Homo sapiens: one gene and its partner. The protein of the gene in region 1 purifies or fractionates together with the protein of each later gene. This does not show direct contact. Each region holds a gene or a part of one and is shown on either strand. Other genes may lie near its edges.

Region 1 (3,923 bases):
AAACAGGCTGGGTAAAGTGGCTCAAGTCTGTTGGCCAGGCTGGTCTCAAACTGCTGACCTCAAGTGATCTACCTGCCTTGGCCTCCCAAAGTACTGGGAAAACAGGCATGAGCCACTGCACCTGACCCATTCTTCTTAACATTAACACTTTTTATGTCAATTAATGCGTGAACTCAATGTTAAGTCAACTCAAACTCAAGTCAATGTTGAATCAACTCTAATGTCAATTAAAGTTTTATGATTTTTTATATTCATTTTATTTGGAACAATTATCTCAAAAATGAATTTTCTGATGTTCTGCATGGAATGACCACAGAGTGAAGACCTTGCCACCCTTACATTTGTAAGGCATCTGTCCAGTATGAATTCTCTGATGTCTAATGAGGTGTGAACATGAAGTAAAGGCTTTGCCACAATCATCACACTTGTGAGGTTTCTCTCCTGTATGAATTCTATGTTTTGCATAGGATGAAGCTTGACTGAAGACCTTGTCACAGTCATGATATTTGTAAGGTTTCTCTCCAGTATGAGTTCACTGATGAACTACAAGTTATGAATGACGTCTGAAAAATTTGCCACATTTATTACACTTGTAGATCTCTCTTCAATATGGATTCTGTAATGATTTGCAATGGTTGTAGCATTACTGAAGACTTTGTGACAATCATTACATTTGTAAAGTTTCCCTACACCCATGGATTGCTTGATGGTGAATAAGTGTTGACTGTCCAGTAAAGGCTTTGCCACACTCATTACACTTGTAAGGTTTCTCTGCAGTATGAACTCTCTGATGTTTTGCAAGGCTTGCTTTTTGATTAAAAACCTTGCCACATTCATTACACTTGTAAGGTTTCTCTCCAGTATGAACTCTCTGATGTTGTGCAAGGATTCCTTTTTGATTAAAAACCTTCGCACATTTATTACACTTGTAAGGTTTCTCTCCAGTATGAACTCTCGTATGGTTTGCAAGGCATGAATCACTCCGGAAAGCCTTGTCACAAACCTTACATTTGTATGGTTTTTCCCCAGTATGAATTCTCCTATGTCTTTCAAGGTGTGATCTGCGACTGAAAACTTTGTCACATTCTTCACATTTGTAAGGTTTCTCTCCAGCATGAAGTCTATGATGACGTGCAAGGTTTTCTCTTCGACTAAAAACCTTGCCACATTCATTACATGTGTAAGGTTTCTCTCCAGTGTGAAGTGTATGATGGTATTGAAGGGATGACTTCCGACTGAAACTCCTGCCACATTTATTACACTTGTATGGTTTCTCTCCAGTATGAACTCTCTGATGTTCTGCAAGGTATGAATCACTCCGGAAAACCTTGTCACAAACCTTACATTTGTATGATCCCTCTCCAGTATGAATCTTCCTATGTCTTTCAAGGTGTGATCTGCGAATGTAAACATTGTCACATTCTTCACATTTGTAAGGTTTCTCTCCAGTGTGAAGTATATGATGGCATTGAAGGGATGATTTCTGACTGAAGGTCTTGCCACACTCATTACACTTGTAAGGTTTCTCTCCAGTATGAATTGCCTTATGAATTACAAGGGCTGAATTTCGACCAAAAGTCTTGCCACACTCATTACACTTGTAAGGTTTCTCTCCAGTATGAAGTCTACGATGGCATCTAAGGGATGACTTCTCACTGAAGGTCTTGCCACACTCATTACACTTGTAAGGTTTCTCTCCAGTATGAAGTCTACGATGGCATACAAGGGATGACATCTGAGTGAAGGTCTTCCCACACTCATTACACTTGTAAGTTTTCTCACCAGTGTGACATCTATGATGATATACAATGTATTGCTTCTGATTAAAGATCTTGCCACATACATCACATTTATATTCTCTCTCTCTTGAATGGGTTATGTGGTGTCTCCTTAAGAGTGAGCTATAATTAAAGGCTTTGCCACACTCATTACTTTGGCAAGGTTTTTCTCTCATGCATATTTCCTGTATTTGTGTGAATGAAGAATGGAGGAAATTCTTCCCATACTTATTAGAAATATGAGTTTTGAGCCTACAAGAAATTCTTTGGGATTCTGAAGCTGAGGAAGCACCGATAGACTTGTCCAATTGGTTACTAATTTTCCCTTTAGTCTGAAACATGTGGAGTTCAGGCAGATGCGAATGAAAGCTTAATCCAAGCTGATCTTTAATAGGCTTGTTTCCAGCATGCCTGTGATCACTTCGGTCTGTACTACCAGTCAACTTTTTGATTTTTGTCATGGGTGCTTCATGGCCATTTCTTTCAACTTCTTGCCACTGAAACTCAAAGTGATGAATATCTTTCTTCATTTCTGGGAAGCAAAAATCTCCAATGTGATGACTTTTATGTCTTTGCAACGTCCCTGTGTGGATCACTTCTCCTGTAATACTGTGCCTGGTTGATGAGAACTCCATCATGGATTTTAAAGAGCTATCTAAAAAATATAAAGACCAATAGGTTTCCAATTAAGTACAGATGGTAAATAATAGTTGATATTCAGATGTGTAAAAATTACACAAAAAGCAATACTTATTTTAAACTTCCCAAATGTGATCTTCATAGTTTAAGAACACACTGTCTCTACTGAACATACAAAAATTAGCCAGTCATGGTGGTGGGTGCCTGTAATCCCAGCTACTCAGGAGGCTGAGGCAGCAGAATTGCTTGAAGCCAGGAGGCAGAGGTTGCAGCATGCGGAGATCACCACATTGCACTCCAGCCTGGGCAACAAGAGCAAAATTCTGTGTAGAAAAAAAAAAGAGTTCAGTCAAGAGCCTCATATATATGAGGCAGTGAGCCTGAATGATGTCCTCCCTAAGAGGAATTTCTACAGCAGTGACTACTGCTTAGAGAAGATGACCATTCGTTTATGTGATGAACACTGTCACAGTGCTAGTGAGAGATGCTTCTGTGATGGTTCTCAAAAACCAGAATGAAAGGCCAAGCATGGTGGCTCACGCCTGTAATCCCAACACTTCGAGGCTGAGGTGGGCAAATTGCTTGAGGCCAGGAGTTCAAGACCAACTTGGCCAACATGGTGATACCCTATGTCTAATAAAAATATGAAAATCTGCCAGGTATGGAGGCATGTGCCTGTAATTCCAGTTAGGTTGAGAGGCTGAAGTACAAGAATTGCTTGAACTCAGGATGCAGAGGTTGCAATAAGATGAGATCAAGACTCTGCACTCCAGTCTGTTCAACAGAGGGAGACTCTGTCTGAAAACAAACAAACAAAAAGAAAACAAAACCACAAGCACAGCTGGAAACACTTGTCAATCAGTGTCATGCTTTCTATCTCGTATCCTGGGCCATGCTGACCATTCTGCTCAGGGCTTCCAGGGACATCTCTTCCTAGAGCAGGATGATGTTCAATTGTATTAGTCAAAGTGTTCGTGAATTTTCTGTTTTTATGTAAAACCACTCCAAAGAAGAGTCTCTAAGAAGCTGTCCATGACAGATAGGAGGGTCATCACCGCAGAAAACAATGACATGTACATCAAAAGCATGTATGGGGCAAAATCACAAAAGAGAATATAAAACCAGAAAGAGCCAAGATAGACAAGTGCAGATTCCTCATGTCTGGAGGGACATTTTCCTCACCCACAAACTCCAGGTTCCTGTAGTTCTCCAACATCACAGCCCTGTATAAAGCCCTCTGTGCAGGGTTCAGGCATTTCCACTCCTCCAAAGAGAACTCTATAGCCACATCCCTGAAAGTCAAGCGTCCCTAAAATAAAAAACACGTTTCAACAAAACATTATGGAGGAGTGAGTTATTGCCCTCACGTGAAATGAGAAAACAGAAAATAAGTATTGATTTGATCCAAGACTGTGTTCTGACAAATTTATGTTAAGGTATTTTTGAACAATTTTTCAGTATAGTTGCATTTTATTGTACTTTTTCATGATAGCTTTTAAAATCCCC
Region 2 (3,923 bases), on another chromosome or scaffold:
ACGCCCGGCTAATTTTTTGTATTTTTAGTAGAGAAAGGGTTTCACCGTGTTAGCCAGGATGGTCTCGATCTCCTGACCTCGTGATCCGCCTGCCTCGGCCTCCCAAAGTGCTGGGATTACAGGCATGAGCCACCACGCCCGCCCATGTAATGTGTATTTTATAGTTTAAAAAAAAAACTTATAAAATAGTGTGGTACTCAGACACAGATCATTGGAACAAAAATCCAGAAACAGACCCACACATATATGGTCACAAGGCGAAGGTAATTCAATGTATAAGAGTCTTTTCAGGCCGGGCGCGGTGGCTCACGCCTGTAATCCCAGCACTTTGGGAGGCCGAGGCGGGCGGATCACGAGGTCAGGAGATCGAGACCATCCCGGCTAAAACGGTGAAACCCCGTCTCTACTAAAAATACAAAAAATTAGCCGGGCGTAGTGGCGGGCGCCTGTAGTCCCAGCTACTTGGGAGGCTGAGGCAGGAGAATGGCGTGAACCCGGGAGGCGGAGCTTGCAGTGAGCCGAGATCCCGCCACTGCACTCCAGCCTGGGCGACAGAGCGAGACTCCGTCTCAAAAAAAAAAAAAAGAGTCTTTTCAACAAACGGTAATGGAACGACTGTATATCCCAATAGGAAAATGTTGACACTTACTTGACAACATAAGCAAAAATTAATGATATTAGATCATATCATAGACTTACACGTTAAAGACTATGTAAAACATATATGAGAACACAGAATATCTTCAAGAACTTGAGGTAGGCAGAGATTTCCTAGCACAGGAAAAGCACAAACCATTAAAATATAAAACTGACCAATTGACTTAATCAGAATTAAAAACTTCTTTGCCAAAAACGTCAAAACAATGAAACGACAGGCCCAGATTGGGAAAAAGACTTCGCAATCATTTATGTAACAAAAGATTTTCATTCAGAGCATACATATATCTAACAAAACATTTGTATCCAGAACTGTTAAACACGAAGGACCAGATTTAAAAACGGGCAGAAGACTGGAACTGAAACTTCACAAAAGATGCAGAATGGTCAGTAAGCACAGGACAAAAACGGTGCCAGTGACGCTGGTGCCAAAGCGGGAAGGAACGCATTCTTCAGCCTAAAAGACCTAACAGTAGGACACGGACATAACCACTCCCGGCCAAAAAGAACACAGAGCAACACAACGTCTTGGCTAACGAAAACTCAAAGCCTCAATTCACTCAGTTCCTTCACAGCGCTCGGAAACAGAGAAGTCTCGCGGTATCGGAAAATGCGCGGCGCTCACAGCCACACCTGACGAGATGGAGGGCGCAGGCGCATCCACGGCTTTCAGATTGGGCGACTGACTTCAAAGGGGGGGGCAAACAGGGAACGCGCAGGTATAGGAGCGCTGGCTGGAGGCTCCTCGAGAGCTCCCCAGACACGCCCCCGTGCGTACGCCCCCGTGCGTACGCCCCCGCTGCCGCCACCTTCGGTTGACCACCCCCATCTAGACTGTACTCTCGCGGTATTTGTCCCGACTCTCGCGGGGTTTAGCGTGGCATTGGGAGGCCCGGCCTGGGGGAGGAGACGGCGTTCCGTTAGCGGCGTTGGGGTTTGGCTGCAGTGGCAGTGCTTTCTCTTCTGCTCACGGGGACCCGCTCAGGCTGGAGGCCAGCCAGGTGAAGAGCTCGCCCGCATGCGTGCGCGCTGCGTGGGAGCCGCGAGGCCCGGGGCGGGAGGGGGCCTCGTCTTGGCCTCCTGCGCTGTCGCGACGGGCCGGCGTGAGGCACCGTGGCGCGGACTTCGTCTCAGCCCCGCCCTCGCCCCTGCCCTCGCCCCCGCCCTCGCCCCTGCCCTGACCGCTTTTCTCCCCCTCTCTCCCAGCTCTTGCCGCCACCTCGGTCGCGATGGGGGCGCAGGACCGGCCGCAGTGCCACTTCGACATCGAGATCAACCGGGAGCCGGGTGAGCTGGAAACTGGGGAGCGCTGCTGGGGCCGAGGCCTGCCTTGGCGAAGGGGAGGGGTCTACCCTCAGCAACCCTCCCCCGGCCTTTTTGGGAGCGGGTAGGAGGCGCAGGCAACTTTCCGTTTTCTCTTGAGAGAAAATCAGTGGGAGAGGAAGGTGGCCTGGGCACACCCCTAACTCGCAGTCCGGGCCTCTTCCTGCCAAACCCCACACACCCCGCTGCATCTCCGGACTGAGTCCTCGTAGCCAGCCTGGCGCCAAGAAAAGGAGGTGCAGTTCTTTGAGGACTTTTTCTCTCCCAGTGTCTCCGTGAGGCAGACACTCCCGATCCGATTTCCGGTTATCTTGCTTGGTGCTATGAAGTTTCAACTAGTAGGAAATATTGTGTGTTTCCTAATCACGATATATCACTAATATGTTAATTTTGCCTCTATTTTTCCTTAAGAATCTTTAGCTAGAATTTCGTGGTTCCTGGGAAAATGGCTTAGTGAAGATCTTTTGTGATAAACCAGAGCATTTTGTACCAGCAGAATTGCAGCATGCATGCACTTAGCATTAATGTTTGTCTTTAGGGAATCCAGACATTTGTTAGTGTATTTTTTTTAAATGAAACATTTCCTTCTAAAGCATAGTTATTTCATTCTAAGTAGCAGAGCGTGCAGGGTTTCAAACTGTTTTCTTAGCTTTTTTTGTTATCCGTGACAAAAGTTTTAATTGGAGACATATATATATGTGTTGTCTTTGTGCAACATCTTGTTCTGCATATTCTTATGAGAGCCTGCTACTGTTCTAGGGTCTGGAGATAGAGCAGCGCATAAAACAAAGGCCTCTTCCTTTTATAGTTTATATTCTATTGGGGGGAAGACGGACAACTAGGAAAAAAATAACAGTGACTTGTAGTTGGGATACTATTTTAATAAGTTGGTCAGACAAGGCCATTTTGAGAAGATGAGATTTAAGCAGGTATCAGAAGGAGATGAAGTGAGCCGTATTTAAGAAGAGCATTCGTGGTAGAGGGAAACAGCACAGCCCTGAGGTGAGGAGTAGTATACAGTCAGGCGCCAAATGACATTTCTATCTTTAACAATGGTCTTATATATAATACCTTTTTTTGGTAACTTTTTAATGTTTAGCTGTGTTTAGATATACAAATACTTCATTGTGTTAAAGTTGCCTACGGTATTCAGTGGAGTAACATCCTGTACAGGTTTGTAGCCTAGGAGCAAATAGACTATATAGCTTAGGTGTGTAGTAGGCCGTACCATCTAGGTGTGTTTAAATACATTCCATGATGTTCACACAATGACGAAATTGCCTAATTACACATTTCTCAGAATCCGTCCTGGTTATTAAACAATGGAGGACTGTACTTGCATGTTTGAGGGACAGCAGGGTGCCCAGTGTGGCTGGAGTAGAAGAGGAAAGAGAATAGTAAGAAATGGCCTGTAGGACTGACTCAGTGAGGTAGGAAGATATTAAAGGGTTTCGAGCAAAGGGATGAGATAATCCTGGAAATTTGGTTGCCTTCTCTCTCTTTTTAATGTTTTTAGCCTTGATTGATCTTTTTTTTTTTTTTTTTTAAATAAGTGTTACTAGAAAGCCTTGATGGACCTTAATCTTTATTTTGTAGTGAATCCATGCTTTAGATAACAGGGTTATTTTCTATTAAGAATTAAAAATAGCTCACGCCTGTAATCCCAGCACTTTGGGAGGCAGACGCGGGTGTATCATTTTGAGGTCAGGAGTTCGAGACCAGCCTGGCCTACATGGCGAAACCCCATCTCTACAAAAAATAAAAAAATTAGCTGGGCATGGTGGCTCTCTTAGTTTTTGCCTGTAGTCCCAGCTATTTGGGAGGCTGAGACTGAAGGACTGCTTGAGCCTGGGAAGCAGAGGTTGCAGTGAGTAGAGATTATACCACTGCATGTCAGCCTGGGTGACGGAGTGAGACCCTGTCTCAAAAAAAAAAAAAAAGAA

Evidence for each region.
Region 2: the proteins of ZNF816 (region 1) and NKTR purify together in Homo sapiens (affinity purification with mass spectrometry; 2 studies listed by BioGRID and IntAct, with this or other methods). This does not show direct contact.

What each region holds. Positions count from the first base shown.
Region 1 is NC_000019.10:52,949,152-52,953,074, forward strand, and holds the end of ZNF816 (zinc finger protein 816), read right to left. Parts: intron 3,727-3,923; coding exon 3,600-3,726; intron 2,434-3,599; coding exon 668-2,433; 3' UTR 234-667; downstream 1-233. Other genes in the region: ZNF816-ZNF321P (ZNF816-ZNF321 protein), read right to left, coding at 3,600-3,726. UniProt on the Homo sapiens protein: May be involved in transcriptional regulation.
Region 2 is NC_000003.12:42,599,121-42,603,043, forward strand, and holds the start of NKTR (NK-tumor recognition protein), read left to right. Parts: upstream 1-1,565; 5' UTR 1,566-1,658; intron 1,659-1,839; exon of another isoform or gene 1,840-1,863; 5' UTR 1,864-1,886; coding exon 1,887-1,944; exon of another isoform or gene 1,945-1,958; intron 1,959-3,923. UniProt on the Homo sapiens protein: PPIase that catalyzes the cis-trans isomerization of proline imidic peptide bonds in oligopeptides and may therefore assist protein folding. Component of a putative tumor-recognition complex involved in the function of NK cells.